Linked DNA regions of Homo sapiens. The protein of the gene in region 1 purifies or fractionates together with the protein of each later gene. This does not show direct contact. Each region holds a gene or a part of one and is shown on either strand. Other genes may lie near its edges.

Region 1 (3,816 bases):
GGGGGGTATTTTTAGTACAGACGGGGTTTAACCATATTGGCCAGGATGGTCTAGAACTCCTGGCCTCAGGTGATCTGCCCGCCTCAGCCTCCCAAAGTGCTGGGATTACAGGCGTGAGCCACCGCACCCAGCCGAGTTCCCTGCTTTCAATCGAGATGAAGGGGACCCAGAATAGCAGAAATCAAGAAGGTAGTATTTAATCACCAAACACAAGGTGAGAAAATCAACTATCAAGGACAGTGGAAATGTACCAGTAATCAGAATGCCCTGACCTACAGAGATCTGTGGTGGTGGCTAACTGATCGTGCTGTCCCTAGAAATGAAATAGATAAGCAGTTAACAAAGCCTACTCTAAAGAGCCACAAAATATATGTTAGGCATTATGGGCCACATGGTCTCTGTTGCAGCTACTCAACTCTGCTGTTGTAGCATGGAAAATACCATAGAAAATGTAAACAAATGAACACGGTTGTGTTCTGATTAAACTTTATATACAAAAAACACATGGAGAGACAGATATGGCCCATGGGCCATAGTGTACCAATCTCTGTACTTGAATACTGCTCCATCTATGTAAAAAGTCTAAACTATAGTAGCCAAAAACTGGATTTATCCCAGTGGAGAATCATAACCTGTCACTCAATTACCACACTGAAATCATTCATAAATCATGAACTTAGGTGATCACTCCAATTACCGCCATTTTTCAAAATGTAATGCCTTTACTAGATAAATCAACATAATTTCTGTCACTTGGTATGCAGGCATTGACATAGCTAATGTCTTTTCTCCATACCAATTTGAAAAAAACAAGACTTGGTTACCTTTCACCTGGCAGGACCAACAATGTATCTTCATAACATTGCCCCTAGAATGTGTCAGTTCTCGAGGTCTCTGTCGTAACTTAATCCCCAGAGAAAATGACATTCCATGAAACACCACACTAGTACACTATGTTGACACCATTATACTGATCATATCCAATGAATAGGAAGTAGAAAACACATTTTTAAAAATTAGAGACAGGGTCTTACTCTGTCACCCAGGCTGGATTAGAGTGGCATGATCATAGCTCACTACAACTTCAAACTTCAAACTCCCGGGCTCAAGCAATCCTCCTGCCTCAGCCTCCCGAGTATGTGGGACTATAGGCACATACTACCATGCCTGGCTAATTGTTTTTCTTTTTCTTTTTACTATAGACATGAGGTTTCACTACGTTGCCCAGGCTAGTCTCAAACACCTGGTCTCAAGCAATCCTCCCACGTCAGCCTCCCAGTGTTAGGATTACGGGCATGAATCATTGTGCCCTGCCTGAAAATACCTTAGACAACTTTATTAGAAGCATGCAGCATTTACGGTTCCAAAATGGTAGTACAGAAGCAAGCTGGTTTCAATCCCCTGACAGAAAACTACAACCAAATGCATATTGTGAAAATTATCACCAGCAATATCCCTGATCTAAAATATAAAAATTAGGCAGTTTCTGGGGCTACAAAGAAGTGAAAAAACTCCAAGGGAGACGTTAAGAGAATCAAGTTTCCAAGAATGTGGAAAATTTCTACCAATTCACAGTTTCTACACTGGAAAAAACTGAGATCAATGTGGACAACCACCTTCTCCATCATCCTGGGTTCCCTGGTAAAAGATCAGTCCCTCCCTGTCTCAACCCACAGGAAGCATTACAAATGCCTGAAGGGAGAAACATCCCTGAGGACATCCAGGGACAAAGATGGGAGGCAGGACTACCATCCCAGCCCTGGAAACTCTGTTTTATAACTTGGCCAAAGGAGAAGCCAAGTCAGAGTGGCTGTTCAGGAGCACCATACTGTAGGGGTACGCTACACAGGTCACCTGGGCATGAACACACAGCCAGCCTTCCCACAGTGCTGGAATATGCCCTTTAGGACTCCCTCATTCTGAATGGGCAGTATTCTTGATAGTTTGCTATAGCAAAGGCAAACGTGGGTTTAAGATTCCATCTAGTGCTGAAAACGAGGCAGTGACCTAGGGAAATTTTAAAGAAAGAAAATCACTTTCGGAGGCTGAGACAGGCAGATCGCTTAAGCTCGAGTTCAAGACCAGCAACAAGATGAAAACCCATCTCTACTAAAAAGTACAAAAAGTAGCCAGGTGTGGTGGCGTGCACCTCACCTACTCAGGAGGCTGAGGTGGGAGGATTGCTTCAGCCTGGGAGGTAGAGGCTGCAGTAAGCCATGGTCACACCACGGCACTGCAACCTGGGTGACAGAGAGAGACCTTGTCTCAAAACAACAACAAAAAAGATAAAAAGAAAACATACCCAATAAAAACCACAAGCCAGACAAAGACTGTAATAAATAACTAATCCTTCAATGCACAGACACAGATGTACATCCACAAGAAACAACAGCAAATGGGGAACCACGACCTCCTAAAATGGACGAAAATAGTATCAGTGACTGAACCTAATGAAATGACAATATGTGAGCTCCCTAAGAATTCAAAATAACAGTTTTAAGGAAATTCAGTGATCTCCAAAATAACACAGAAGAGCAACTCAGAAATGTATCAGAAAAAACTTTAGAATATATTAACAACAACAAAAAAGAGAAATCTTACAACTGAGAAATACTCAACTCAAAAGTTCACGGTAGAGGCTCTCAACAGCAAGATGGATCAGAGGAAAGATTCACTGAGCTTGAAGAAAAGCTATTTGAAAATATAGCCAGAAGAGAAGAATGAAAAGGAACTAAGATTGTCGGCAAGATGCAGAAAATTACCTTGAAAGACCAAACCTAGGAATCACTGGTGTTCAAGAGGGAATGCAGCAAGTGCAAGGGGTAAGCTTTGAAAGCTTTATTAAGGAAATAACAAGATTCCAAAAATTGAGAAAAATATAAATATCCAGGTACAGGAAGGTAAGATGACACCAAACAGATTCAATCCAAATGAGACTACTACAAAGCATACAATCTTCAGACTCTCAAAGGTCAAGGACAAAGACAGGACCTTAAAAGCATTAAGAGAAAAGAAGCAAATAACATGAAGGACTCCAGCTGGTCTGGCAACAGGATTTCTCAAGGGAAACCACACACAGGCCAGAAGGGAGTAGGATGACATTTTCTTTCTTTTTTTGTGAGACGGTCTCACTCCGTTGCCCAGGCTGGAGTACCGTGGCACAATCATGGCTCAATGCAGCCTTTATCTCCCAGGATCAAGCCATACTCTCACATCAGCCTCCCAAGTAACTGTTACTACAAATGTGCACCACAATGCCTGGCTAATTTTTCTTTCTTTCTTTTTTTTTTTTTTTTGTAGAGACGGGGCTTCACCATGTTTGAAATGCTTGTTTCCCGGTGCCGTAAAGAAATAGCACTTGAACATAAATTTTATTTCTTTAGCAAGGCCATTTTAATTTATTTATACATTTTTTTGAGACAGAGTCTCATTCTGTCGCCCAGGCTGCAGTGCAATGGCGCGATCTCGGCTCACTGCAACCTCCGCCTCCCAGGTTCAAGCGATTCTCCTGCCTCAGCCTCCCTAGTACCTGGGATTACAGGCACATTCCAACATGCCCGGCTCATTTTTTGTATTTTTTGTTTTTTTAGTAGAGACAGGTTTTCATCGTGTTAGTCAGGATGGTCTCAATCTCCTGATCCCGTGATCTGCCCGCCTTGGCCTCCCAAAGTGCTAGGATTACAGGCACAAGCCACCGCGCCCGGCCCTAGCAAGGCCATTTTTACACTTTCTGCAGAAAGGGTACACTCCCCAGCAGATTTGCCATGAGAGTACACCGAACAAAGGAGACAGGTTCATTTATAACCTGACGCATCC
Region 2 (3,816 bases), on another chromosome or scaffold:
AATAGGGAGTTAATGTTTAATGGGGACTGAGTTTCAGTTTGGGAAGATGAAAAACGTCTGGAGACCAATGGTGGTGAAGGTTGCAAAACAGTGTGAATGTACATCATGCCACTTAACTGCATACACTTAAACACGGTTAAAATAGTAAATTTTATGTTATTTATATTAATACCATGATTTTCAAAAAAATTCATAATTCAGGGTAGGTGCAGCTCAGCAAGTGAACAGGTAGAGCAAAGGAGATGCATTATCAGGCTGACTTCAACGCACCTGAGCGAATGCTATGCTGCAGACAACACTCAGCTCATGAGACAGGCATGGAAAAGAAACCACAGAGCTGAGGGATGCCAGCTCTGCAGGCACCCGCTGAACCAGGCAGTTGGCATCCTCACAGCTGCAGGGTAGACCATTCCACCCGGGGGGACTGAGCTGGGTAACAAAGAAGCACCGGATGATCCCACAGGTGGGACAGGACCCTTGGGATATCATCTTCCAGTTCTTGGCTTCATGAAGAAAATGCTGGGCACTCAGCCAGCTATGACTTTGGGGAAAAGAACCTGCAAAAAATGCTGAGAAATGGTAGACAGAATCCAAATGCCAGAGATGCTGAAAGGCAAAGTGGTTCAGAAAAGACAGGGGATTTTACTGCATGAAATTCTGACCTTCCCAGGGAGTTCTAAGAGAACACACATTTAACACAGGAAGGCTGGGTGTGCACAGCATGGGCTGAGGGGAAGAGCACTGGAAAATGAGTCCGGAAACCTAAATTCAATCTGGCTCTCCCATACTTACCAGCAGAGTGGCCCGAGGCCATCTGCTCTCCGAGACCATCTGCAAAGGGGATGATAACGTGCACCTTCCCAGGCGGCAGTGATTAAGGGAAGCAACACAGATTCTGCATGCCTTGGAGATGGGGCTGCCTGACGCGTAAGTGATCAGGTGCTTTGCATATCAACCTCCAAGCCCCCAGAGACAGGTATTACTCACTCAAACCACATCACACACAGCAGAGAATAAGAGTTGAATTTAAGTATTCTAGAATACACACAAAAGAGGGCACCAAACTGGTGAGAAGCCTGTCAAGAAATGTGGATGGGGAGGAGAAAAGAAAAAAATGTTTTAAAGGATATACACCACGCTTATAAACATGTATACAAAAGCACAAAGATGGAAAGGAACAAAGTGAAACCAACCAGTTGCTATGCAGCAGGATAGGAATATGAAAATGTTTTTCTTTGAGATAATTTTAATGTTGTTCTACTAAGCACTTTTTAAAAACATCACCTACTTCTGATCTGAGTGTTGAATTATGGCCATCAAACCATTATGCACTCGAGTGAAATGACATTCAATGAGTCTAACTAAAGAAGTAAATCTGATCCCAAGTGGCCTACAAAGGTGGAAGCCCTTTGGGGGCTCAGGGGTCGCCATCCAGCTCGGAACCTCTGGGGCAAGCTCAGAGCCCTCCCACCCCCCTCGCCCAGCTGTGCTGTCAGAGACCTTCCCAGACCACAAATCAAGCTAGAGTCTGCCTTTACTAGCTATGTGACCTTGGACAAGTTTCTTAACCTGTCTGCTAAACCCTGATTCTTTCCTCTACAAATCAGGAATAACAACAGTAACCATCAACACAGTTTTTGTGAGGATTCAACAAGATAATCACCTAGATGGGGTCCCGACATCATCTTCATTTCAAAGGCAACTCACTCACTCACTCCTTTAAGATCCAGGCATACAGCCAGAACTCATCTGAATCCCCTACCCCAAGGAACCCGGAGCCCAGGGATGGGGCTTTTCTGACCCCCATCTTCCACGCGTTTCCACCTGCTGTTCCCTCCACCCAGACACAGCTGAACTCCTACACATCCTTTGGGGCAATTCCATTGTCACTCTGGGGACCAAACCTTCTCCAGCTGCCCGGGTGTGGTGGCTCACACGTGTAATCCCAGAGCTTTGGGAGGCCGCAGTGGGAGGATCTCCTGAGGGCAGAAGTTCCAGGCCAGCCTGGGCAATATAGTGAGACCCCAATGTTACCAAAAAAAGAAAAAAAAACCTTCTCCAACTCCAGCCCACACTTCAGTTGCTCACCCCCGGCACCACCCCATGTTGGTTTATGGGTATCTGTTTACTCTGTCTGCCCCTCAAGACTGGGAGCTTAAGAAACACTCTTCTCTCTCCGATACCCCTCCCCCATGCTTAATGTAGTGTAAGGGCTCAGTAAGCCTTTGCTGACTGAAGAAAACATATTGTGAGCAAACAAAAACATTTTGGAAAACAATTTAAAATAAACCAGAAATTAAAATCAGGTGGGACTAGTAAAATTAATCTAGCTCTAGAGAGAGGCCACAGAGGCTGCAGAAGGAGTGAGATTAGAGGGATTAGGGTGGTGGGGGGGCACACCAGGATGCTGCCCGGCTCCAGCCCCACTCTGCCAGGTCAGCTCTGGCTGGTAGCAGAGTCACAGGCATCCTGGGCTGGCGAGAGTCGAGACTGCCCCATAGCAGCTGCTTTCAGATGCAAGGGGACTCTGAGGTCACATCAACAAGACCTTTAACCTGCCAGCAAGAGAAAGTAATTGTGGTGAGGAGGGTCAGAGTGCCAGGCAGCTTGCTTCCTACCAAGGGAGGGGCAGCAGGCAGCACACAGCGCAGATGGCTAACAAGCACTGGGGGCTCCCCACCCCAGCTAAGAGTCCCAGGAAATGTAGAGAGGAGAGCCGAGGGCCTCACCCTAAAGAGATACAAGCTCCAAGTCGACCATCCTTATTCAACTGTGCTGAGGTGGGAGTAGACAGAGACTTCCATCAACCCACTTAAGTTCATCATTTTAAAAACATGTTTATATCTGAATATGAAATAAAGCACAGATGAATGCGCACCCCTATTTTAACAGTGTTTAATGAAACTGTAGATGTTGTTCCAACCTTTGTGTATTTTCAAATGGGTCTTCGATGAATGCATTGTAAACGAGAAATGAAAGGAGAGCACACACACGAACCTGGAAAACACACCCAGATGAATCAGCAGCTGACCCTGCCCTCAGGCAGCAGCCACGGGCTACAGGTGGAAACTGGAGTGCAGTTCCCACTGGAGGAGAAGGCTCCAGGCAGGGCAGAGAGAGGCCCGGGGAGGAGCCCACTCCCAGCCGGCCAAAGGAAGTCAAGCAGTGGGCAAGGATGGAACACGTGTTTTGAGGACAAATGGTAGGCGGAGGATTTCTGTGGTTGCCAGGCTGGATTTTTTTCTAAGTCCCCACGCAAGAATTTAAGGGAAGGCCCCACCCCCATCGACCTTCTGCTATTTCAAAACGAAACAGACCTGTGCCTTCATCCACTGCAGGGTACTAGGAACAGAATTCAATGAGATTATGCACGTGAAAGTGCTTAGCAAGTTAATATTTGTTCAGAGCCCTGTACCAGTGTAGGGTCATGTTACCGGCACTGGAGAGGCTAGGCTGCGGCCCCTTCCCCCTGCAGGCCAACCCCCGCCCCTTATTAACACTGACAAATCCAGCAAGTATAGAAGGGGAGTTAGTGCTCTTGCTTGTATCACGACACCCCCTTTGGGAAGGGTGTTCATTACCCCTCTCTCACCCCCCCCCACCTCAGCCTTTCTTTTAAAACAAAGAAGGCATATCCAAAAATAACACAAACTCATGACCCACTAGATATCCAAGGCCTCATTCCAGGTCTGAGAGGGGATGTGGGTGGGGCAAGTAGTGGAAGGCCACCTTTAGCCAATACCTACCCTACAGGGGCAAAAAAAGCAAGCCACCCAGAGCCCTGGGATAAGCCAGTGTGCCCATGGCAGCCAGAGC

What was found.
Region 2: the proteins of ZNF121 (region 1) and EPB41L4B purify together in Homo sapiens (affinity purification with mass spectrometry; one large-scale study listed by BioGRID and IntAct). This does not show direct contact.

What each region holds. Positions count from the first base shown.
Region 1 is NC_000019.10:9,570,748-9,574,563, forward strand, and holds part of ZNF121 (zinc finger protein 121), read right to left. Parts: intron 1-3,816. UniProt on the Homo sapiens protein: May be involved in transcriptional regulation.
Region 2 is NC_000009.12:109,311,044-109,314,859, forward strand, and holds part of EPB41L4B (band 4.1-like protein 4B), read right to left. Parts: intron 1-3,816. UniProt on the Homo sapiens protein: Up-regulates the activity of the Rho guanine nucleotide exchange factor ARHGEF18. Involved in the regulation of the circumferential actomyosin belt in epithelial cells.